Regions from separate parts of the Homo sapiens genome. Here all the other regions are linked to region 1. The links come from fine-mapping of genetic effects on gene expression. A gene starts in region 1. Each other region holds a variant in brackets. All regions are shown on one strand. Distances are between the middles of the regions.

Region 1 (8,189 bases):
TCATAGGGAGAAAAAATTAACAAAGAAACATTGGCCTTAAATTGGACTTTAGACCAAATGGATTTAACAGGTATTTGTGCAGTGGTGCAATCTTGGCTCACTGCAACCTCCACTTCCTGGGTTCAAGTGATTCTCCTGCCTCAGCCTCCCAAGTAGCTGGGACTACAGGCATGCACCACCATGCCCGGCTACTTTTTTGTGTTTTTAGTAGAGACGGGGTTTCAGCATGTTGGTCAGGCTGGTCTTGAACTACTGACCTCAGATGATCCACCCTCCTCGGCCTCCCAAAATGCTGGGTTTACAGGCATGAGTCACTGCGCCTGGCCCAGAATATGCATTATTTTTATCAGCACATGGACCATTCCCCAAGATAGACTACATGTTAGGCCACAAAACTAGCCTTAAGAAATTTTTAAAAATTGAAATCATGTCAACTATCTTCTCAGATGACAATGCAATAAAGGTAAAAATCAGTACCAAGAGAAATTTCAGAAAGTATACAAATACATGGAAACTAAACAGCATGCTCCTGAACAATCACTGGGTCAATGAAGAAATTAAGACAGAAATTTAAAATTTTTATGAAATGAAAAGAAAAACACATCTTACCAAAACCTGTGGGATACAGTGAAAGTAGTTCTATGAGGGAAATTTATAGCATTAAATGCCTACATCAAAAAAAGCAGAAAGATGACAAATTAACAGCTTAATATTGTATCTCAAGGATGTAGAGAAACAAGGAGAAATCAAACCCGAAATTGGCAGAAGAAAAAAAAAAAGATCAAGGCAGGACTAAATAAATCAGAAATGAAAAAAGAATAAAAAGGATCAACGAAATGAAAAGTTTGTTCCTTGAAAAGATAAAATTGATAAACCACTAGCTAGACTAATAAAAGGGAGAGAAGATTCAAATAAACACAATCAGAATTGAAAATGAAGACATTACAATTGATACCACAGCAATACAAAAGGCTCTGACATAAGGATTTGGGTGCTTACTTGGGAAGTGACCCAAGACTCACTGTGAAAAAAAATGGAAAAGTGATACCAAAAAAAGGAAGAAAGTCAATAGACTATGTATTAATGAATGAGTTCTGTTATAGGGAACTGGTGCTTAATCCTGTTGGAGACTCTCTAAGAGACAGTTGAAACACACTTCAAAATTATTTCTCTTAGGGGACAGAGAAGCTAGGGTAGTTATCCAGCATATGCACGTTACACTGGATAGGAAAAATTCTTGTGGGATTAACTTCCCAGCACCTATGGCCTGCCCCATACCTATGCATCCTCGGAAAAGAAAGGAGTTGTCCATAGATGTGGAGACTGGCTGAAGATGCAGCATCAATACAGCATTTGCTGCAGAGTTTGCTCAGAGTTTGAGGCTGCAGTGAGCTATGATCACGTTACTGTACTCTAGCTTGAGCAAGACCCTGTCTCAAGACCTCCAGAGTGGATCAAGGGGATATAGATGCTGCATCAACAGCATTTGCTGAAGTAGGTTTGGACAATAATAATCTCCCTTGTATGTCTCCGGTCCCTTCTAGAAAGTTGGCACCACTTCTATAAACTCAATTAAAAGGTGACAAATTTCATCTTCTACAATATCTGGTTAAACCTGGTCCTGAATGTCCCACGTGCACTAGGGCTTAGCCACCTATATGTCCTCATTCAGATGCCTCTTATTATTTCTGTCAATACAGTTTGGTTCATGTTATTCGTCTTTACAAAAAGCTATTGAGTTACTTTATAGAGTTAGACAAATGCTAAAGTTCATTTGGAAAAACAAACATGCAAGAATAGCCATAAAATATAATGAAAAAGGAAAAATTACACAGGAGACTAACCCTACAGGACATTGAAGTACACTGGAAAGCCTCTATAATTAAAACATTGTTGAAATAACACATGAATAGACAAATAGACCAATAGAAAGTAAAAGAAAGACCAGAATTAGAACCAAATGCATATAGAAATTTAGGCTGTGACAAAGGTGGCATTTCAAATGCCGCTGAAGAGAAGATGAGCTATTTAATAAATTGCCCTGGGGCAGCCAGGTAGACTTTTGGAAAAATTTAAAATTAGACCCACATCTCATAGCATTCACAAAAAAATACATTTTACATGTATTAAGAATCAAAATGTAAAAAGTAAAACAATACAAGTATTAGAAGAAAACACAGCTAAATTCCTGTTTAATCTTAGTGTTAGGAAAGGCTTTCAAACAATGACTCAAATGCATAGGTAATAAAAGATAAGACTGATAAATTTTACTACAAAAATTTTTAAAATTTTTCTTGACAGAAAACCACCCTAAACAAAATCAAAAGACACTGTCAAAATTGGAGAATATACCAAAGACAAAGACCTAAAATCCCTAGTATGTAAAGAACTCTTTAAAAATTAAGGGACAAAGGTCCAGGAATCTGATAGAAAAAATGGGTAAAGAAGTAAAATTTGGGTTAGGCATGGTGGCTCACTCCTGTAATCCCTGCACTTTGGGAGGCCGAGGCAGGAGAATCATTTGAGGCCAGGAATTGAAGACCAGCCTGGGCAGCATAGTGAAATCCTGTCTCTACAAAAAATTTTAAGATTTAGCTGGCCACAGTAGTGCGTGCCTGCAGTCCCAGCTATTCAGGAGGCTGAGGCAGGTGGATTGCTTGAGCCTGGGAGTTTGAGGCTGCAGTGAACTATCACTGCACTCCAGCCTGAGCAAGACCCTGTCTCTAAAAAATACAAACAACAACAAAAAAGTGAAGTCTGACTCCAGCTACCTTTTCATCTTTTTTACATTCAATGTCCTTCACTGTGAGCCATTCCCAACATATCTCTACCTTCTCTTCCCCAAGACTTTTCCCTTTCCATACCCTCAACGGTGTTCTTTTTGTTTTGACCATCTTACAATGTTCTAGCCATCCCATCAACTTCATTTGTTCTTCATTGTTCACCTTCTTCAACGGTAAATCTGTCATGGACTATTACATGCAGCTGTTTTTGTACTGTGCAATTCACACGATGTATGTCATAGATATGTGGAATGCCCTCCCATGGATGGCTTCTGATTTTCTATTGGCTCTGACTTGGATGAAAATAGATCTAAGTTGATTACAAGTCTCATTTCACTCGCTGTGATTCTATCCCTTTCTGGACTGCAGTTTATTGATTTCATATGCCACCTTCTGTTTGAAGTCTTCCCTAATCTCTTCAAGTCCAACAAATCATTTTCTCCTCTGTTCTCCTGTGGGGACATTTATCTCTCTTCTGTGGTGTTTATTTCATCCTGTCTCATGTTACAGCTAAATACAGCACACCCTGGGTGCCCAGTTCATTTCTGTGTCTCCCAGAGCAACCAGCCCAACCCTTTCTTCTCCATGGAGATTATACCATAGACTCTTGTCAAATCAAACCATATTTAACTGGCTCATTAACCAAAACAGGAAATAAATACGAATGAAACTGAGCTCTAAGCAGCATGTAACCTGGCCTGCATCCAGGAAATAGAGGACTTCGGATCCTTCTAACCCTACCACCCAACTGGCCCCAGTACATTCATTCTCTCAGGAAAAAAAACAAGGTCCCCACAGCAAAGAAAAGGAATAGGATCAAGAGATACGTGGCTGCTGGCAGAGCAAGGTGAGTCTGCTTAATCTGGTGGTTGGTAACTGGGAGTTGGTGATAAGGTTTTTCTACCAAGTGAGACTTACGGCGAACCAGTGTGGATGAGGGATAGACAGAGTGTATTGTACTAGCTTTATTGAGTCTGCTCCAAGAGAAAGAAAGAGAAAGATAGGACATGGAGGGGGATGGGAGAAACAAAAAGAAAAAGAATTTTTAAAACCACATTAGAATGTATAAGTAGCCTAGAAAATTGAGCAGTGGAAGCCACCCAATGAACAGACACTGCCTTGGCAATGGGGCTTCCCTTGAGAAGGATAATCTCCATTTAACTAATATTGACATACCTGGGACCTTGGAGGATTCTTGTCCACTCTCTCACCCTGTTTCCTTTTCCAGAAAATGAGAGAATTGAACTCAATGTTGTCCAAGAGATTTTCTAGTTCTGAACTTTTGCTTTCAGCCAGTACTAACATATGCAAAGCAGCACTCTAAACACTATGAGAGGCCGGGTGCGGTGGTTCACATCTGTAATCCCAGCACTTTGGGAGGCCGAGGCAAGCGGATCGCCTGAGGTCAGGAGTTCGAGACCAGCCTGGCCAACAGGGGGAAACCCCATCTCTACTAAAAATACAAAAATTAGCTGGGTGTGGTGGCGGGGGCCTGTAATCCCAGATACTCAGGAGGCTGAGGCAGGAGAATTGCTTGAACCTGGGAGGCGGAGGTTGCAGTGAGCCAAGATCGTACCACTGCACTCCAGCCTGGGTGACAGAGCCAGACTCTGTCTCAAAAAAAAATTAAAAAATAAACACTATGAGAGACACAAAGATGGAAAAGATGGACCCCTTGCCCTCTGGTAGCCTTTAGCCTCTTTGAGTCTTAGTTTTCTCATCTGTAAAACTGGGCGGGTGAGAGGATGAAAGGAAATGTATTTGTAAAGCACCTCTTAAGTGCCCTATAACTGATATCTATTATTTGTAACATGGGATTCATAAACTTGTAGAGGGTTAAGATGCTCCAATGAGCTAGAAGAAGCAAAAGTCCTTTTTAAAGGACAAGTCCATATGTGAGGGAAAATTCTCTCGCATTTATTTCTTGGCAGCATGAATTCGATGACTTCAGCAGTTCCGGTGGCCAATTCTGTGTTGGTGGTGGCACCCCACAATGGTTATCCTGTGACCCCAGGAATTATGTCTCACGTGCCCCTGTATCCAAACAGCCAGCCGCAAGTCCACCTAGTTCCTGGGAACCCACCTAGTTTGGTGTCGAATGTGAATGGGCAGCCTGTGCAGAAAGCTCTGAAAGAAGGCAAAACCTTGGGGGTAAGTGAGATTTCCCTTTGCAGGCCACAGACTGCACAGCTGGAGTGATGGCAGGGGGAAGGGAAGGCCTGGGAAATACACAAACACTACATCCCGCAAGTGGGGCTGAGTTGATCGCGCCTTGCCAAGCACAGGTCTATTAGAAAGCTCAGCTGCACAACATCACAGGCGGCCTCTGCTCAGACCTTGTATTTTCTGATTTAGGCATTTTCGGAAAGAGAAAGAAAAGCAACAAAAAAGCAGCACGCTTGAAGGTTGATCCTGTTGCCAGGATCCACGCCCAGCCCTGTGGCCTCTGAAGAAAGGGGTCCCAGCAAGACCAAAATAGACCACAAGGTGGAGTCAGAATCCAATAAGATCGAATCAAATATTTGCCCAACAGGAAACAAAGCAGGTTAGGCAACCAACAACATAAATGGTCACCGCAACCCCTGAGAGGCTGTCCTGCGCTGGACAAAGAAAGGCCCATTTCACTGTGTAGCTGAATGATGGGCATGAATTTGGATGCAGACTGCCCGAGCTCCAACCCTAGCTCCACCCTCAGATAGTGCTCATGGGAACAAAAATTGATACAACCCTTAGGGAGGGAAATTTGTATCTGCCAAATTTACAAAATATCCAATAATTCCATTGCTGGAACTTCATCCTCCAGATATGCCTGTGCCCACAAAAACTGTGATATGTATGAGCTTATTCATTGCAGCGTGGTTTGTGATAACAAAAATATTGTAATATCCATCAATATAATACCGGTTAAGTCAGTATATTGGTTAAGTCAGTGTAATATACTGGTTAAGTCAGTGCATCCAAAGAATAAAATGTAGTGGAGCTATGAAAAGAACAAGAAAGCTCTTTGTGTAATGATAGGGACACACCCCAAGATATGGAGTTAATGGAAGAAAGTAAGGGGCAGACACTGTGTATAATTTGCTTACATTTATGTGAATTTAAGGAAGTAATATATTTGTATTTGCTACCACGTGTGTAATATACAAACATACACAGATGTTCTTTCATTTACAATGGGATTATGTCCCAGTGTACCCATCGTAAATTAAAAATATCATAAGTAAAAAATACATTTAATACATGTAGCCTACCAAACATCATAGCTTAGCCTCGCCTACCTTAAACAAGTTCAGAACACTTAGGTTAGCTTACAGCTGGGCAAAATCATCTAACACAAAGCCTATTTAATAGTGTTCTTGAATATCTAATGTAGTTTACTGAACACTGGACTGAAAATGAAAAGCAGAATGATTGTATGGGTACTCCAAATACGGTTTCTACTGAATTCATGTCACTTTCACACCATAATAAAGTTGAAAACTTTGTTTTTTTGAGACAGAGTCTCACTCTGTCACCCAGGCTGGAGCGCAGTGGCGCAGTCTTGGCTCACTGCAACCTCTGCCTCCTGGGTTTAAGCGATTCTCCCGCCTCAGCCTCCCAAGTAGCTGGGATTACAGGCACCCACCATCATGCCGAGCTAGTTTTTGTATTTTTGTAGAGACAGGGTTTCACCATGTTGGCCAGGCTGGTCTTGAACTCCTGACCTGTGATCCGCCCGTCTCAGCTTCCCAAAGTGCTGAGATTACAGGTGTGAGCCACTGTGCCTGGCCCACATGGCATTTTTTATAAGGACACCAATCATATTGGATTGGAGACCCACTCTACTCCAGTGTGACCTCATCTTGGCTGATTATATCTGCAACAACTCTGTTTTCAAATAGAGTCACATTCTGAGGCACTCAGCATTAGAATTTCAACACATGAATTTGGAGGAGGGTTGGGGGAGGGGAGCATAATTTAACACATAACAATATCCTAAAGAAATAAGAGATGAAGGCAAAGATTTACATAGAAGGATGTTTATCACAATGTTACATATAATAGAAAAAAGTAGAAATAATCTTACCTGTCCAATAACTCTGTCTCAACTACTCCACAGACCATCCATAATGGGATCTGAGCAGCCCTGAAAAAACATATGTTCCAAGAATACTTAATGCCATGAGGACACATTCATGATGAAATATTAAGTTAATAAAATTCAGGGGGCCATGTTGTGCTATCAAGGTATATATTTGAAAAGAATAATGGGAGAATACACCAAAATGTAAACAGTTGTTTTCTCCAGGCGGAGGGGAGATTACAGGTAGTTTTTATTTCATTTTTGTATTTCCCATATTACTTTTTAGACCATGAAAATAAAACATTTATTAAAATTAAAAGGAGGCTCATAGGGGAGGCAGGACCCAGCCTCAGAAACAAGACTTCAGCTTGTGGCTCTCCTGACAGGCCATCCAGATCATCATTGGCCTGGCTCACATCGGCCTCGGCTCCATCATGGCGACGGTTCTCGTAGGGGAATACCTGTCTATTTCATTCTACGGAGGCTTTCCCTTCTGGGGAGGCTTGTGGGTGAGTAACTCAAGTCCTCCTGCCGATGAGCTCCCAGAAGGTGCCAAGGCACTCAAGGCCACCTTGCCAAGTTGTGCAGCTGTGCCCTGCAGAAGGTTCCCAGCCACCCAAATGTGGGGGATAGGAAACCAGCCAGCCCTGGCCTCGTTCCGCAAGCATATTAGTTTGGTAGGGCCGGCCCAACAGAGTATAGCACCACAGGTTGGATGGCTTAAACAACAGAAATTTGTTATCTCACAGTTCTGGCGGCTGAAAGTCTGCGATGGAGATGTTAGCAGATGTTTTCCCCTAAGGTCTCTCTCCTTGGCTTGCAGAAGGTCGTCTTCTCCCTGAGCCTTTCCACGGCCTTCCTCCATGCCTGTGCCCTAGTCTCCTCTTCCTATGAGGACACCAGTCATTTTGGATTAGGGTCCCCCCTGATGACCTCATTTAACCTGAATGACGGTTTTAACAACCCTATCTCCAAACACAGTCAGATTCTGGAGCACTACAGATTAGGGCTTCAATCTACGAAATTTGGTGGGGGATAGAGGGTGTGGACACAATTCAGCCCATAATATCAAGCTACAACCCCGCAAGGTGACATCCCCTCAAAAGGGATGTATTTTCTTTTTACTTTTTTTTTTTTTTTTTTTTTTGAGATGGAGTCTCACTCTGTCGCCCAAGCTGGAGCGCAGTGGTGCAATCTCGGCTCACCGCAACCTCCCCCTCCCGGATTCAAGCAATTCTCCTGCCTCAGCCTCCCTAGTAGCTGGGATTACAGACGCGCACCACCACGCCCGGCTAATTTTTGTATTTTTAGTAGTGACAAGATTTCACCACGTTGGCCAGGCT
Region 2 (8,189 bases), 37 kb before region 1:
ATTACCTCCTTACCCACAACTTTGTACTTTTCAACCAAAAACAGGGCTTCAAGGGAGAGAAGATTTAGTATAACACATTCCCTTTTGCTTTGTGAAAAGGCCTCTGAGACATCCCTGTACAGTCATTTCACCCAGAGAAGGGCCTGGTGATCTCTGCTCTGGATAAAAGACATTATTTTCTCTAAGGCTTTCTTATAGTGGGAGTCCTCAAGTGGAAGACATTTACAAACACCGAGAACTTTCTGGAAAGAGTGTATGTAATAAAGACAAATCATTTAAACTGAAATAATACAATTAATCACTTATTGCAAATCATCTAGAAAGAATCCTCAGCCCAAGATATGAAAGAGGAGCATATGACAGATATTTAGCCATAGATAATAATTACTCAATTTTATACCTATTATGTATCAGGCATCTCCAAAAGGCACTCCAAGTTCATTTTACCTTAATTGCCACGACAACCCCATGAGATAGCTATCATTCATCTCCATTTGACAAACAGGGAAACTGAGGCTTGGAGAACTTAAGTGACTCTCACAGAGTGACACAGCAATGAAGTGTCAGAGGTAAAAACAAACAAACACAAGCTAAGATGATTCTGCCTTCATGACAGGATTTCATTTTCCTGGGCTGAAGGATCCCCAGTCCCCTTCTTAGTATGTTTGAATCATCTTTTGTTATTGCCGCAGGCAGATTGAAGACAGGTATATGATTTACTGGAAAAAAATTAATTCTTGGTATTCCAGAAACAACAATCCTTTCAATTAGTGCCAGAAGGTGATGATAGCACTTAGGGTATGATATTTGTGGAAGGCAACCTATAAATCTTCAGATGTAATGTTTTCTGAAACTATTCCCACTGATGAAATTTTTTTTATAACATTATGGGAGAAACGTAGTTCTTGCAAGTGAGAGCCACCACACTAGCCACTAGGAAATATTTTCTAATAATTCATTTCAAGGGATCAATAAATGACAATTAAAACAAGTGAAGTGCCTACAACTTGTCCTCATAAAATCATTGTGAGCTCCCTAAGTCCCATCACCTATGCAAAGGTCTCATTAATGACCGGAGACTTTAAAACATTTTTCATCCCTATAACAGAGAAATAGTGAATCCATGCTTTAGAAATTGTACTAGCGGTCACTACAGACTTCGAATGGGGTTTTTCATGTTAAAATCACTTTCTTCAGAAATGCATTCAGTGCCACTTTGGATATTAGGAATGCCACTGGCTCTAGGGAAAGAAGCTATTGAGGGGATTATCATAAGGCATTGTGTGTTTATAAATGCTTATTTCTATCCCCAGTTCATCAACTCAGGATCCAGTAGTGTAATACAGAAGCCTGTTACGAGATATAAGGTATGTCAGAATATTCGGAGCAACTCTAAAGATTAAAATGTTACTTGGTGCAAACAAACAAAAAAAGAAATTATTGCTGGGCCAACATTTTTGGGGAAAAAAAACTTTTCCAAATGTTTAAATGAAAAAAAATTATTTAATTTTTGTAAAGATATCCTCCAGTGCATCCTCTGTGCATGAATGTTGGAGGAGGATACAGTGTGAGCAATAATATTGTATACAGAGACAGACGTGAGAGTTTCCATGAAATAAATCATTTCAAGCTATCTCAACGAGCATATATAACCAAATAAAACTTAAGACAAGGCCTTACTCTGTCACCCAGGCTGGTGTGCAGTGGGTGATCACAGCTCAATGCAACCTGGAGCTCCTGGGCTCAAGTGATCCTCCAGCCTCTGCCTCCCAAATAGCTGGGACTGCAGGTGTGTGCCACCACACCTGGTTTTTTCATTTTTTGCAGAGATAAGGGTCTTGCTATGTTTCCCAGGCTGGTTTTGGACTCCTGGCCTCAAGGCATACTCCTGCCTTGGTCTCCGAAAGTGCAGGGATTATAGACATGAGCCACTAAACCTAGCCACCAAACAAAACTTCGACCCTGAGAATCAAAGCATTGGGAAGCGAAGAAATGTAATTAGGATAAGATTAGAAAATTAGTGTCTAGTTAAGGAGAATGGATAAGACAAAATAATGTGTGAAAAGAGAATTGCCTTCAGCAAAACCAGGTCAGGAAATATCAATTAGAACACAAACCAGATATCATGACAACACATCTAACGAAGGATGGTCCTTTTTCTTTTAGAACTTCCCTCCTGTCTCTCACAGCCCCCCTTGTGATTAGGATCACAGCTCTGGAGGCAGATAGCCTGAATTTTCCAATTCTGACTGCCTTACTAGTGCCTGTGTAACCCTGAGCAAATTACTTTACTCTGTGCCTCACTCTCCTCATTTAAAAAATAAAATGTGGTTAATAATAGTAACTGCCTCAAAGGGTTGCTGTGAGGATTAAATTAGTATGTAAGCATAAAGAACAGTACCTGGGGCCACACAGGGTGGCTCATGCCTATAATCTCAGCCCTTTGGGAAGCCAAAGGCAGGTGGATCAGCTGAAGTCGCGTGTTCGAGACCAGCCTGGTCAACATGGCAAAGCCCCGTCTCTACTAAAAATACAAAAATTAGCTGGGTGTGATGGCGCACGTCTGTAATCCCAGCTACTCAGGAGGCTGAGGCACGAGAATCGCTTGAACCTGGGAGGCAAAGGTTGCCGTGAGCTGAGATCCTGCCACTGCTCTCCAGCCTGAGTGACAGAGCAAGTCTCCATCTCAAGAAAAAAGAACAGTAACTGGCACAAAGATACCACTCTGCTTATCAAAACCCGCTGAGAAAAAACAGGTGGATTCTCCTCTTTCCCCAGGGGAAAATCTGCTTTCAGGGACTGGTAAGAGAAGAAATTGAAATTGTATTTCATATTTCAGATAAAGGGGTCCTCCTATTTTTTCTTTCAGTAGAATAGGGTCAGAGTGGTATGAGAGGCCATTTTTCTCAGCCCCAGATTGGAAGCTATAATTATGGGCATTAAGCTATTACACTTTTTTTAACTTCTATTCCCAAGGTAGCCACTGTTAATATCATTTTTCATTCTAGGCCTTTTTCTAAGCTTTTTTTTTTTTTTTTTTTTTGTAATTTGTTTGCAAGCAGAGTGAACATGTGACTTAGAAGTCACCTGGTGTTGCTTTTCCACGGAAAACCTTACATCCACAGAGATATAAGTACAGATGACATGAAAGCCCATAAAGCCCCCATGTGATTTGGTAAACTCCCAGAACTAGCATTCTCATAGTTTAGTTTCTGTATTGGTGCATACTGTCCCAAATTTTCTCCACAACACCCAAAGAAACAGTTGTGAATAAACTCAGCCCCTTGACTGATTTTCACAAAAACTCACAAAAAGTTTTGGGTTTTTTTACTCGAGGATTGGTGGGGGAAGATTATGATTGTAATTTCCAAGTTCCAGTCACAACCTAGATCCCTTTGTAACTCTCTCCCTAATCCCCATCACTCCGTCTTCTGCCCTTCTTTTTCCATCTCCCCACTCCACCTCAATCAATCAATCTATACATATACATATATGTGTGTGTGTGTGTGTGTGTGTGTGTGTAGATATATATATATATAATTTGCTGCATGTCAGGCATGTTCTATGTATGTAGGATGCATCAGTGAACAAACAGATGAAAATTTATTACCCTTAGGGAGCTTACATTCTAATAGCAGGATAAAAGCAATAACAATAAACAGGACAAACAGGGAAATAATATAATATGTTAGAAGGTGATAGGTGTGATGAAAAAAAGAAAACGTAATAAGGGCTGCCATAGTTTCGTCTTGAACATTTGGACGGATTCAGTTGAGAATCTTAGACATGAAGATATTTAAAGCCAGGAGACTTGTTGAGATCTCCAGTGGAAAGAACACAACAAAGACGAAAAGAGAAACAAGAACTGAGCCCTAGGGCACTCCAACATGAAAAATAGAAAAAAGGGGAGAAAATAATAATTTTTTTACTTGAAAAGTTTCTTGGTTTAATCATGTTCTAAAGAGTAAAATATTATATCTTATTCGTGTGCATGTTTTCAAGTTAAAGCAGAAAATAAATGTAGAATATATGTTTTTGTTTGAATTTTTTTTTTTGTTTTTTGCTTGTTTGTTTGTTTTTTGAGACAGAATCTTGCTCTGTTACCCAGGCTGGAGTGCAGTGGTGCAGTCTCAGCTCACTGCAACCTCTGCCTCCCAGGTACAAGCAATCCTCCCAACTCAGCCTCCCAAGTAGCTGGGACTACAGGCTCCCACCACCACGCCCTGCTAATTTTTGTATTTTTAGTGGAGACGGTGTTTCATCATATTGGCCAGGCTGGTCTCAAACTCCTGACCTCAAGTGATCTACCCACTTCAGCCTCCCAAAATGCTGGAATTACAGTCATTAGCCACCGTGCCCCACCAGAATATATGTCTTTTGTACCATAATTTTTAAATTGTTTTTTCAAACAATATACATTAAGTGACTTCCTTTTGGGGTGCAGATATTTGAGTTCAGGAACTTTTTTCTGAAAACATATATATTTATTTTCATGTAAACCTGGGAAAATCTTTAGCTGTCTATGTAAGTATTATCTTAATTGATTCTTTTCTTAAGCATACAACTCAATAGTTTTTAGTATATTCACTGATATGTGCAATTATTAACACAGTCCATTCAAAAACATTTTCATCACCTCAAAAAGCAACTCTGTACCCCTTGGCTATCACTCCCATCCCCAACTTCCCATTCTCCCCAACCTTAGGCAGCCACTAATCTACATAGGGTCTCCATATATTTTCCTACTCCAGACATTTCATTAAAAATGAATCACATCATATGTAATTTCTTGTTAACTGGCTTATTTCACTCAATATATTGTGGTAAAAGTTCACTCATGTTGTAGCATATATCAGTACTTTATTCTTTTTATGACTAAACATTTCTATACACCATAACATTCAAGCTGAGAGTCAAATCAAGAATGCAATTGCATTTACAATAGCCACAAAAGTAATAAAATACCTA[G/A]AAATACATCTAACCAAGGAGGTGAAAGATCTCTACAAGGAAAACTAGTTAATACAAAATATTGCTTAAAGAAATCATATATGACACAAACAAATGGAAAAACATTTTATACTCATGGATTAGAAGAATCAAAATCATTAAAATGGCCATACTGCGCAAAGCAAGCTACAGATTCAATGCTATTTCTATCAAACCACCAATTATCATTTTTAGCACAATTAGAAAAAGTATTTCTAAAATTCATATGGAATCAAAAAAGAACCCAAATAGCAAAAGCAATCTTAATCAAAAGGAATAAAGCCAGAAGCATCCACATTACCTGACTTCAAAGTATACTACAAGGGTATAGTAACTAACCAGTACCATGCTGGTACTGGTGCAAAAACAGGCACATAGATCAGTGGAACCAAATAGAGAATTTGGAAATACATCTGCACACCCAAAACCAACTTATATTCAACAAAGTCAACAAAAATAAGCAATTGGGTAAGGATTCCCCATTCAGTAATGGTGCTGGGATAAGTGGCCATCCATATACAGAATAATAAAACCGAACCCTCAAAAGCAATTGCAACAAAAACAAAAATTGACAAATGGGACCTAATTAAACTAAAGACTTTCTGCACAGCAAAAAAAAGAAACTATTAAACTAAACAGACAACCTGCAGAATGGGAGAAAATATTTGCAAACTATACGTCCTACAAAGGACAAATACTCAGAATCTATAAGTAACTTAAACAATTCAACAAGCAAAAAACAAATAACCAAATTAAAAAGTGGGCAAATGACATGAACAGTCACTTCTTAAAAAGAAGACATACAAGCAGCCAACAAACATGAAAAATGCTTAATATCACTAATTGTCAGGAAAATGTAAACCAAAACCAAATGAGATAACATCTCATACCAGTCAGAATGGCTATTACTAAAAAGTCAAAAAATAGATATTGGTGAGAATGCGGACAAAAGGAACACTTATACACTGCTGGTGGAAAAGTAAATTAGCTCAGTCCCTATGGAAAGCATCTGGAAATTTCTAAAGAACTAAAAATAAAACTACCACTTGACCCAGCAATCCCATTACTGCATATACACCCAAAGGAAAATAAATCATTTTACCAAAAAGACATGCATTTACATGTTCATCACAGCACTATTCACAATAGCAAAGACATGGGATAAATCCAGGTGCCCATCAATGGTGAATTGGGTAAAGAAAATGTGATATATATATATATATACATATATATATATATATATATATATATATATATATATATATATATATATGCATACCATGGAATACTACACAGCCATAAAAAAGAGTGAAATCATGTCCTTTGCAGCAATATGGATGCAGCTGGAGGCCATTGTCCTAGGTGAATTAATGCAGAAACAGAAAACCAAATGCCAGTGGGGTTATAATAAGTGGGAGCAAAACGTTGGGTACATATGCACATAAAGATAAGAAAATAGACATTGATGAATGCTACTGGGGGAAGGCAGGAGGGAAGAAAGTTTTAAAAACTACCTCTTGGGTACTAACTGGGTGATGGGATCAATCATACCCCAAACCTCAGCATTATAAAATACACCCAAATAACAAAACTGTACATATGCCCCCTGAATCTAAAATGAAAGTTGAATTTTTTTTAAAGAACGTGAATAGATATTGTTTTATTTCTATAGTTTATTCAGAAATAAATCTGCACACCCACAACCAACTGGTATTCAACAAAGTCAACAAAAATAAGCAATGGGGTAAGGAGTCCCTATTCAATAATGGTGCTGGGATCATTGGCCATCCATACACAGAATAATAAAACTGGACCCTCTGAATGCCTTTTGGGTTTTCTTTACTGCCGAACTGCCCTGGTTAGAATTTCTAATACAAGGTTGAATAGATATAATGAGAGTATATCTCACCGTCTTATTCCTCATGAAAGCATTGAGTCTTTCACCAATAGGTGTGTTAGGTGTGGATTTTTATTAGATGCTCCTTATCAGGTTGAGAAAGATCCCATCTATTTTGAGTATTTTGAGTGTTTTTATCATAAAACAGTGAAGAATTTTCACCAAATGCTTTGTCTACATCAATTGAGATGATCATATGTGTGTTTTTCTATTTTACTGATATGGCATATGACATTAATTGTATAAGATAAAACCAGCCTTGCATTTGTGGAATAAATCACACTTGCTTACAGTGTACAAGCATACCTCGTTTTATTGTGCTTTGCTATATTGCACCTCACAGATAATGAGGTTTTTTACAAAGTGAAGGTTTATAATAACACTGCATCAAGCAAAGCTGTTTCTTCAACATCACGTGCTCACTTCATGTCTCCGTGTCACCTTTTAGTAATTCTCACAATATTTCAAACTTTTTTATGATTATTATATTTGTCATAGTGATCTGTGATCAGTGACCTTTATGATTATTATATTTGTCATAGTGATCTGTGATTGGTGACCTTCGATATTAACATTGTTATTGTTTTGGCATACCATAAACTGTGTCTATATAAGACAACAAATTTAATTGATAAATATGTGCGTTCTGACTGCTCTACCAACCACACTTACCCTTGTCTCTCTCCATCTCCTTGGGCTTCTCTATTTTCTAATATACAACAACATTGAAATTAGGCCAATTAATTATATTTGTCATAGTGATCTGTGATCAGTGACCTTTATGATTATTATATTTGTCATAGTGATCTGTGATCGGTGACCTTTGATATTAACATTGTTATTGTTTTGGCATACCATAAACTGTGTCTATATAAGATAACAAATTTAATTGATAAATATGTGTGTTCTGACTGCTCTACCAACCATCCTTACCCCTGTCTCTCTCCATCTCCTTGGGCTTCTCTATTTTCTGAGATACAACAACATTGAAATTAGGCCAATTAATAACCATACAATGGCCTCTAAATTTTAAGTGAAAAGAAGAGCCACACATCTCTCTCTTAAGTCAAAAGTTATAAATGATTAAGCTTATGAGGAAGGCATATAGAAAGGTGAGATAGGCCAAAGTTAATCCTCTTGCACCCAACCATTAACATAGGTGTGAATGTAAAGGAAAAATTCTTGAAGGAAATTAAAAGTGCTGCTTGAGTTAACACACAAGTGATAAGAAAACAAAACAAGCTTGTTGCTGATGTGGAGAAAGTTTTAGTTGTCTGGACAGATCAAACCAACTACAGCATTTCCT
Region 3 (8,189 bases), 60 kb after region 1:
CCTTATCAGCCAAGAGCGCTTGCAGAACCACAGAGAATCTGCTGCACAATCTGCAAGCTGGTGCTCTCCCGAGCATGCATAGTAGGTCTCAGAGCACTGGGAAGCAATGCACATCCACGGTCCATTGTAAGTCACTGGCTTAGATATGTTATATTTAACAAAACATCTCAGCCGCATCGTGTTATAACAAGTCACGTTGTAAGGGATGGATTTTATCAAGTTGGTGTGTGTTTCCCACCAAACTCTATGAGATTGGTATTATCCCTATTTCACAGGTAAGGAAACTGAGGCAGAGGGTGACCCTCTCGCTCCCGTGCCTCACAGTAACAAGAGGAGCCAGAATTCAAACCCTGGCTTCTATCTCAGACCCTTACACTGAACTGGTAAACTCCTCACACACCCATGCCAACAAGAAGGATGACTGTTTTCGATCTCATTGTATAATCTGGCAGATTCAGCACTCTGTTGTTTCCTGGTAAGCTCATCTCCTGACACCTGGGTAATGGGTGTTTTTTCCCAAAGTGTTTGCCCAGGCCAGCCACACCTAAAGTGTTGGGGTACATGGCAACATATCCAAGCTTATGTACGTGGCATTTGAGGTCAGGGCATGGAAAAATACGGAGGCACTGTGTGTATGTTATTTGTGCATAAGAATGTAACTCCTTGGCCCTAAAAACAGGACAAGGAGTGAAGTGTGTCATAAGGAACGCTGAAAACAGCCTCCTAAGAATGTGGTTTGAGAGCTTTTGCAAGGCCGCAGGTGTCTCATGACCCCACCTCAAAAAGCCATCTAGTGGATGTTTGTGGTTTAACAATCCCTTTCAATAAATACTTGGCGGACAGATGCTAGGGCAGGCTCTCACAAGGGCGGGCTCTCAGAAGAGCTGCCCCCACCCCCTCTCCCAGCCCCCTTCAGCTGAAATTGTCTAAGAACTCATTCTTGGCGTTCACTGCAAGCTATAAGCTCTGCAAGTGGTGACCCCGACGTGATCGCCTTGAAGTTACGCTTGAAGGAGGAAAACTCATCAATTTTCGGGGAATCCCGGTAAGGGACAGTCCTGACTCCCGTCAGGAGGATGGGACCCACGCGTAAAATATCAGGGGTTGGATTATCATGGGTCAAGAAATGACCAAAGAACAGAAAGTGTTTTTTAAAAACAGTGCGACAGCTACTTAAGGCTAACCAGTGCACTGCAGAGCCTGGAGCTCTACACAACGCTATGATCTTAATTCGGCAGGAATGCCCTTGGTTTCCTGATCAAGGAACCTTAGACTTGAGTTATGGAGCAGGTAGGTCACTGCCTGAAAACAGGATGTGAGCAAGGTCATTTTACTGAGGTTATTGTTTTGACCACCTGGGCGCCGGTACACTCGGTGTTGTATCCTCTTTATCTGCCAGATTGCAGTGGGTCAGACCGCCCGTCTTTGCCTGAAGGGAATTCAGGAGGTTTAAAGGAGAAGGAAGAACAGGAGCCAACCAGGACAGCGGGAGGCGGGCGGGGGGTCCTCTCTCTACTTCATTCCCTTCTGTAGGGCATAAGGAGGATATTTTTTTCTAGTGATCATGAGGACGGACCGGAGCCTTTTCCTCCCCCTATAGAAAAGCCATTGCCCTCTTTTCCTCCACCCTTAAAGGGACCTGTATTCGTTGGCCCCGTTCAGGCAATGGCGCCTCCCATCCCCCTTGAGGAGTCTGGAGGCCGCCCAAGAGATGGTTCTTGGATAAGACCTCCAGTCAGTGAATATCTATATGATCGGGTGGCCGTGTCCTCAACGCCAACTCCTCGTCAAACTTTCTTAGTAGAGGGGTGCCTCCAAGAGGGACTTAGGAAGGGAGACTCTGAGGCGCTTTTTGGCGCATTCCCTGTTATTGTTCAAAGCAACAGGAGATGGCATGAGAGTTTGCCTTTTACTGTCTTTAAAGAGTTAAAGAAAAGTATCCGTGAAAACAGTGTACATTCACCGTTTACGAAGGAGGTGATTGAGGCTCTGGGAAATGGCTATAAGATGACTCCACATGATTGGAAAACTTTGGTAAATGTTTTGGTTTCAGCTGCAGAATATACTGTGTGGTGGAGTGAGTACAGTGATTTAGCCATGCAGCAGTCCTTGCAAAATTTGGATAATAATATCCCGATACAACTTGATATGCTATTGGGAACAGGGCCTTTTGCTTCAGCTCAGACTCAGGGTCAAGCAGGTGGCCATCTATTTCCTCAATGCTCACAGCTAGCAATACAAACATAAAAAAAAAAAATCCCGTAAGACAATCCCAGGGTTCCTTTATAACAGTTAAACAAGGTGCCACAGAAACATACATTAAATTTATCAACCGACTGCAAGCTGCAATTGAAAAACAGGTATCCCATCCTAAGGCTACCAAACTTCTTATGTTACAATTGGCTTTTGAAAAAGCAAATAAGGATTGTCAGACAGCAATAACTCCAGTCTAAGCCACTGCCACTGAAATCAGTGTGTTTATTAAAGCATGCCAAAATATAGGCACTACAACTCATCTGACTCAAACTTTTGCTGCAATAATGACCGGAACCACATATTGTAATTGTGACCTAACCAGGCATATGGCAAAAATAACCCTGCTACTGTTTTCCTACCTTTAAGCAAAAAACAATTTCATACTCTTCTAGCTTGTGCTCTTGATTGGCAAATCGCAATAGCTGACTTTATTGGTAATATCAGCTTTCATTTACCAGCCTCTAAGCTCCTGAACTTTTTACAAACTGTGCCTGTTAAATTTGTATCTATTGTTGTTTCTGAGCCCTTGCTTCATGCCACTACTGTCTTTACAGATGGTTTAGGAAAAACTGGAAGAGCAGCTACAGTGTGGCAATAGGCCATGCAAAAATGGCAGCACAAAATCCAGGAACATTTTAAAACCACGCAACAGGCAGAGTTAGGTGCCCTGATATTGGCCTTACAAACTTTTCCTCACCAAGACATAAACATAGTTAGTGATTCCGCTTATGCGGTGTGTAGTATTACTCATTTAGATCTTGCACATGTGAAGGGCATTACTAATGAACCCCTACTAGCTTTGTTTCTTGCAGCGTAAGAGCTCCTCTGTGACCATCATTGTGGGGAAAAGAAAGAGAGATCAGACTGTTACTGTGCCTATGTAGAAAAGGAAGACAAAAGAAACTCCATTTTGATCTGTACAAAGAAAAATTGTTATGCTTTGAGACGCTGTTAACCTGTAACTTTAGCCCCAACCCTGTGCTCACAGAAACATGTGCTGTACTGAATCAAGGTTTAAGGGATTTAGGGGTATGCAGGATGTGCCTTGTTAACTATATGTTTGCAGACAGTATGCTTGGTAAAAGTCATCGCCATTCTCCATTCTCTATTAACCAGGGACACGATGCACTGCGGAAAGCCGCAGGGACCTCTGCCCAAGAAAGCCTGGGTGTTGTCCAAGGTTTCCCCCGACTGAGACAGCCCGAGATATGGCCTCGTGGGATTGGAAAGACCTTACCATCCCCTAGCCCGACACCCGTAAAGGGTCTGTGCTGAGGAGGATTAGTAAAAGAGGAAGGCCTCTTTGTGGTTGAGATAAGAGGAAGTCCTCTGTTTCCCACATGTCCCTGGGAATGGAATGTCTCGGTGTAAAGCCGACTATTCGTTCTATTCTGAGATAGGAGAAAACTGCCCTGTGGCTGGAGGCGAGATATGCTGGCAGCAATACTGCTCTGTTACTCTTTACTAACTGAGATGTTTGGGTAAAGAGAAACATAAATCTAGCCTACGTGCACATCTGGGCACAGTACCTTCCCTTGAACTTATTTATGA[T/C]GCAGATTCCCTTACTCACATGTTTTCCTGCTGACCTTCTCCCCACCATCACCCTGTTCACCCTGTTCTTCTGCCGCACCCCCCATGCCAAGATAGTGAAAATAGTAATCAATAAACCCTGAGGGAACTCGGAGACCGGCGCCGGTGCAGTTCCTCGCATGCTGAGTGTGCCGGACCCCTGGGCCCACCGTTCTTTCTCTGTACTTTGTGTCTTATTTCTTTTCTCAGTCTCTTGTCTCCACCTGACGAGAAATACCCACAGGTGTGGAGGGGCAAGCCCCCTTCGATCATCACCCTCTTTACATCACACATATTCACTCTCATTCTGGGCTACCTGGTCCCTTATCAGAAGGGAACGCTCGAGCTAATGCTCTGGTACACACACAGATGTGGTTTGCAGACTCTCCTGCTTTTTTGCGAATTCAAGCTGATCATGCTTTTTTTCCATCAGAACGCCTGCAGTCTTAAACAACAGTTTCATTTAACACTTGCTCAAGCTCACATGATTATTAAAACTTATCCTGATTGCCAATGGCATTCTCTTTCCCCTTTTTCCTTAGGACTTGGTGCCAACCCACGAGGTCTGGTGCCTAATGCTATCTGGCAAACTGATGTTACTCAGTATCCACCCTTTGGACGTTTTAAATCTCTCCATGTTACTGTGGACACTTATATAGACCTAATACATGCTATCCCCATGCCGGAGAAAAAACTAAAGATGCAGTTGCTCATTTGTTTGAATCTATTATGACTCCAGGCCTTCCACAAACTGTAAAACTGATAATGGCCCCTGCTATCTTAGTGCTCACTTTGGCTATGCATTGCAACTTTGGCAATAAGATCAACATACAACCCAAGACTGGGATTCTCTGTAACTCAACCAGTCAGGCCATTATTAAACAAGCTCATCAAACTCGTAAAGTATATCTTAATAAACAAAAAAGGGGGAATATCGGGCCCTCTTCTCGAGAACAGGACCTGTCATTGGAGAATCGACTGACAATGACGGTGATGACTCAGAAGGCACCTGACATTACCTGGGGACAGCTAAAGAAATTGGATCAACAGGCAACTATCCGGCTTGCAGGCATAGAAGCCTCTGTAACTGCAGAGAATCAGTTTCTTATGTATCTGGGGGTAATTGGGAAAACTTCTGAGAAAGTAAGACGACATAGATGTTGGGGTGGCTGGTAATTCTTGTCCTTTGCCAAGTGGGATCACCTCAAGAACATGTTTACTGGAGTCATGTTCTAAATCCCCCTGTTTTTAATGTTATTTCATGGTGGGATGCTGACCTGCCTTTGTCATCTAATGATACTTCTTGGACGAGAGGTCGATGGATGCCCCTGTCTTACCCTTCAGTGGAAAATTTGGGATGGATTAAACTTAATAACTCCTTGGTTGTATTGTCTAGTAATCCCCCTCTTTGTTTTTCCACAATAGCACATGCTAAGTGTGTTACTCTTATTCTTCAGGAGTATCTTTACTATCAGTGTAAAAGGGATGCTAAGCTTGCAAACTTGACCTTTATTTCTGCTATTACCACTAATCTTACTGAGGTCTCTAATGAAGCTACACAAGTGCCTGATCTTCCTATATGCCGTCTGAGTAGGGACTGGGGATATAAGTTTGAGGCCATTCAGTGGTCTCCATCCAGACAGCCTGCGCCATGTCAAGGGCCTCTGTTTGATAATGGCACCTTACTTGATTGGAGTCCCCATGGTTATCTTATGTCTGCAAATCAGACTATTGGATCTGGGAGTCCCCAGTAAGTCTATCACCTGGTCAGAGTACAGGCTTTCAGGACCAATATTACAACTAAAAGGGAAACAAGCTTTAAGCCCTGCTCATACCCAAATTTGGAGATTAGAACTTCCTTTTTTTGAATGGGTTCTTTCACATGATGAGTATATTACTAGCAGTGGCAATTATACCCTCTGTTTCCATAATAATGTTACTGACATAGTTGTGATTTGTACTACGCACTCTTATATACTTTTGTTTGGGCAAAGTGTTCCTAATATAGAGCAGAATCAATCCTTTTATAGTAGTAAAGTCTCTTCCAGTAGTTAGTATGCTACATGCCTGTCTCATCGAAATGTTACATAGTTAAATATAACCTATGTCATGATCTTAAAATGGCGTGCAGAATTTTGGCTGCCTGTAAATTTAGCCTGGAGCTGGGAAGGAGATTCAACCCTGCAGCTGTTTAGAAAAGCACTGTCTCATACTCAGAAAAAAAGATTTCTGGCCACTTTAATTGCTTTTTTAGTCTCAGCTATTATTATATTAGCAACTGCTGCTACTGCAGCTGCTTTTTCTAACAAAATCTATTCACACAGCTTCAGTGGTGAACCACATGGTATATAATGTAACCCATAAATTTCAAAAACAGGTAAATATTAATCAAACTACTCTGTCTCACCTGGAGGCTCTTAAAGCTGCAGTTGAATGGCTGGGGGATCAGCAGCTGGCATTCATTACCCATCAACATTTATATTGTAATTGGCAATATAATTCTATCTATGTCACACCTCTGCCATATAATAGCTCCCAATATGCTTGGGAGAGAGTGAAAACACACCTGCAAGGGGCTTATCACAATCATTAGTCTTCTCAAATTCCCACTCTTAAGTGTAAATTTAAAAAACAACTTAAAAAATGGTCACAGCAATTATAAACAAATACCCTTCAACAATTATAAAAAGGCTTTCAATAGTTAAACCCAAACACTTAGTTATCTGGGTTAAACATACACATTTGGGTAATGGCCAATATACTTATTCTTTTTTGTATTTGTTTGCTAGGTATGTACAAATGGCTCTGTGCTGTCACTCAGTGCATCTATAACCAAGAAAAAGCAATAAAAGCTTACCTCGCTTTAAATAACCAACATACTCTAAAAATTAAAGAAGGGGGAGATGTTGAGGGTGCACGGCAACATATCCAAGCTTATGTACATGGCATTTGAGGTTGGGGCATGGAAAAATACTGAGGCACTCTGTGTATGTTATTTATGCATGAGAATGTAACTCCTTGACCCTAAAAACAGGACAAGGATTGAGGTGTGTAATAAGGAACGCTGAAAACAGCCTCCTAAGAAGGTGGTTTGAGAGCTTTTATAAGGTCATAGGTGTCTCATGACCCTCAAAAAGCCATCTAGTGGATGTTTGTGGTTTAACAAGCTCTTTCAATAAATACTTGGCGGACAGATGCTGGGGTGGACTCTCTCAGAAGAGCTCCCCGCCACCCCCGCTCGAGGCCCACTCAGCTGGAATTGTCTAAGAACTCATTCTTGGCATTCACTGCAAGCTATAAACTCTGCATAAAGTTTCCATATCTACACATTTCTTGGCTACATCAATGGTAATTGCTTGGGTGGCCAAATAGAAAGCTTCCCACAGCAGGTGGGAAGTTCCCATACCCAGGGGAATTATTGACGCTAGCTCAATAGTTGAGAGCTGAGAGGCAGGAAGTGGCAGTGAGTCCTGGTCTCGGGGTGAAGAAACCGGTACTCTAGCTAAGCTCTACCTTGCACTAGCTGTGTGTCCTTAGGTAAGTCACTTGCCCTTTCTGGGAAAAGAAGGGCATTTAAATAAACACTCCTCCAAAAGGAGCTTTCCACATAATATAGCTCAGAGATTAAGAGCAAGGCCTCTGAAACCAGAGAGACTAGAATTCAAATCTCAGTCTTACCCCACCTACAGGCCCTTGACCTCAGACATCTTTCGCTTCTCTGAGTCTCAGCTTCCCCAGCTTTGATGAGAGCGTTTGGGGCCATACTGGCAGGGCTGCAGTAAGCAAGGGAAGTAGGCACGTTGCTTATCAACTAAAAAGCTTTATGCACATGGGTGACAATCATCATTGCCATTATTATCTCCCAAGCCTTTGTTTCCCAGGCTCTCTGAGCACGATGTCTGCAGCTCCCGCCAGCAATGGAGTGTTTGTTGTCATCCCGCCAAACAACGCCAGTGGCCTCTGCCCACCTCCGGCCATTCTGCCCACATCCATGTGCCAACCTCCAGGGATTATGCAGTTTGAGGAGCCACCGCTGGGGGCACAGACACCAAGGGCCACACAGCCACCTGACTTGCGGCCCGTGGAGACATTCCTGACAGGAGAGCCCAAAGTTTTGGGGGTAAGAACAGCCTCTCTGCACAACCTGAGGCAGGTAGTGAGTATCCCAGCACCGGAACATTCATGCATGTTTTGGAGAGGGGAGAAGGCAGTTAACAAATATGTAGTAATGACTCAAAGATTCAGCCATGCACCAGGTAGACAAGCACCCTTCCCGCATAAAGTTCACAGAGAGTAAACCAGTAAACAAATGACTCAGAAACCTCCAAAGAGAAAAGTAAGGTTGAAAATGATGACTAGGGCTA

Direction of the effects. Alleles are on the strand shown, and positions count from the first base shown. SD is a standard deviation of normalised expression in the study named.
For the expression in pancreas of the gene that starts at base 3,467 in region 1, allele A in region 2 goes with a higher level than allele G (large effect, 1.9 SD a copy in GTEx).
For the expression in ovary of the gene that starts at base 3,467 in region 1, T is the low allele of the variant in region 3 and C is the other (moderate effect, 0.61 SD a copy in GTEx).

Evidence for each region.
Region 2: its variant is fine-mapped to the expression of MS4A8 in pancreas (GTEx, PIP 0.99).
Region 3: its variant is fine-mapped to the expression of MS4A8 in ovary (GTEx, PIP above 0.99).

What each region holds. Positions count from the first base shown.
Region 1 is chr11:60,696,146-60,704,334 of GRCh38, forward strand. MS4A8 (membrane spanning 4-domains A8) reads left to right here and starts at 3,467. Exons shown (of 7, transcript NM_031457.2): 1 at 3,467-3,630; 2 at 4,715-4,934; 3 at 7,233-7,355. The coding sequence starts at 4,716. It overlaps LOC105369321 (a long non-coding RNA gene), which reads right to left and starts at 7,784. Exons shown (of 6, transcript XR_001748240.2): 1 at 7,594-7,784; 2 at 6,850-6,909. RefSeq lists enhancers at 4,511-5,012, 5,013-5,512.
Region 2 is chr11:60,659,409-60,667,597 of GRCh38, forward strand. LINC00301 (long intergenic non-protein coding RNA 301) reads left to right here. Exons shown (of 7, transcript NR_026946.1): 6 at 1,314-1,367. All of the region lies in intron 4 of LOC105369321 (a long non-coding RNA gene), which reads right to left. Among named protein-coding and RNA genes, the nearest start is that of MS4A8, 36 kb to the right of the region's middle. The variant G/A (reference allele first, on the strand shown) is at 4,969.
Region 3 is chr11:60,756,014-60,764,202 of GRCh38, forward strand. It overlaps MS4A15 (membrane spanning 4-domains A15), which reads left to right and starts at 854. Exons shown (of 7, transcript NM_001098835.2): 1 at 854-1,045; 2 at 7,693-7,945. The coding sequence starts at 7,721. RefSeq lists enhancers at 7,150-7,209, 7,240-7,329. The variant T/C (reference allele first, on the strand shown) is at 3,808.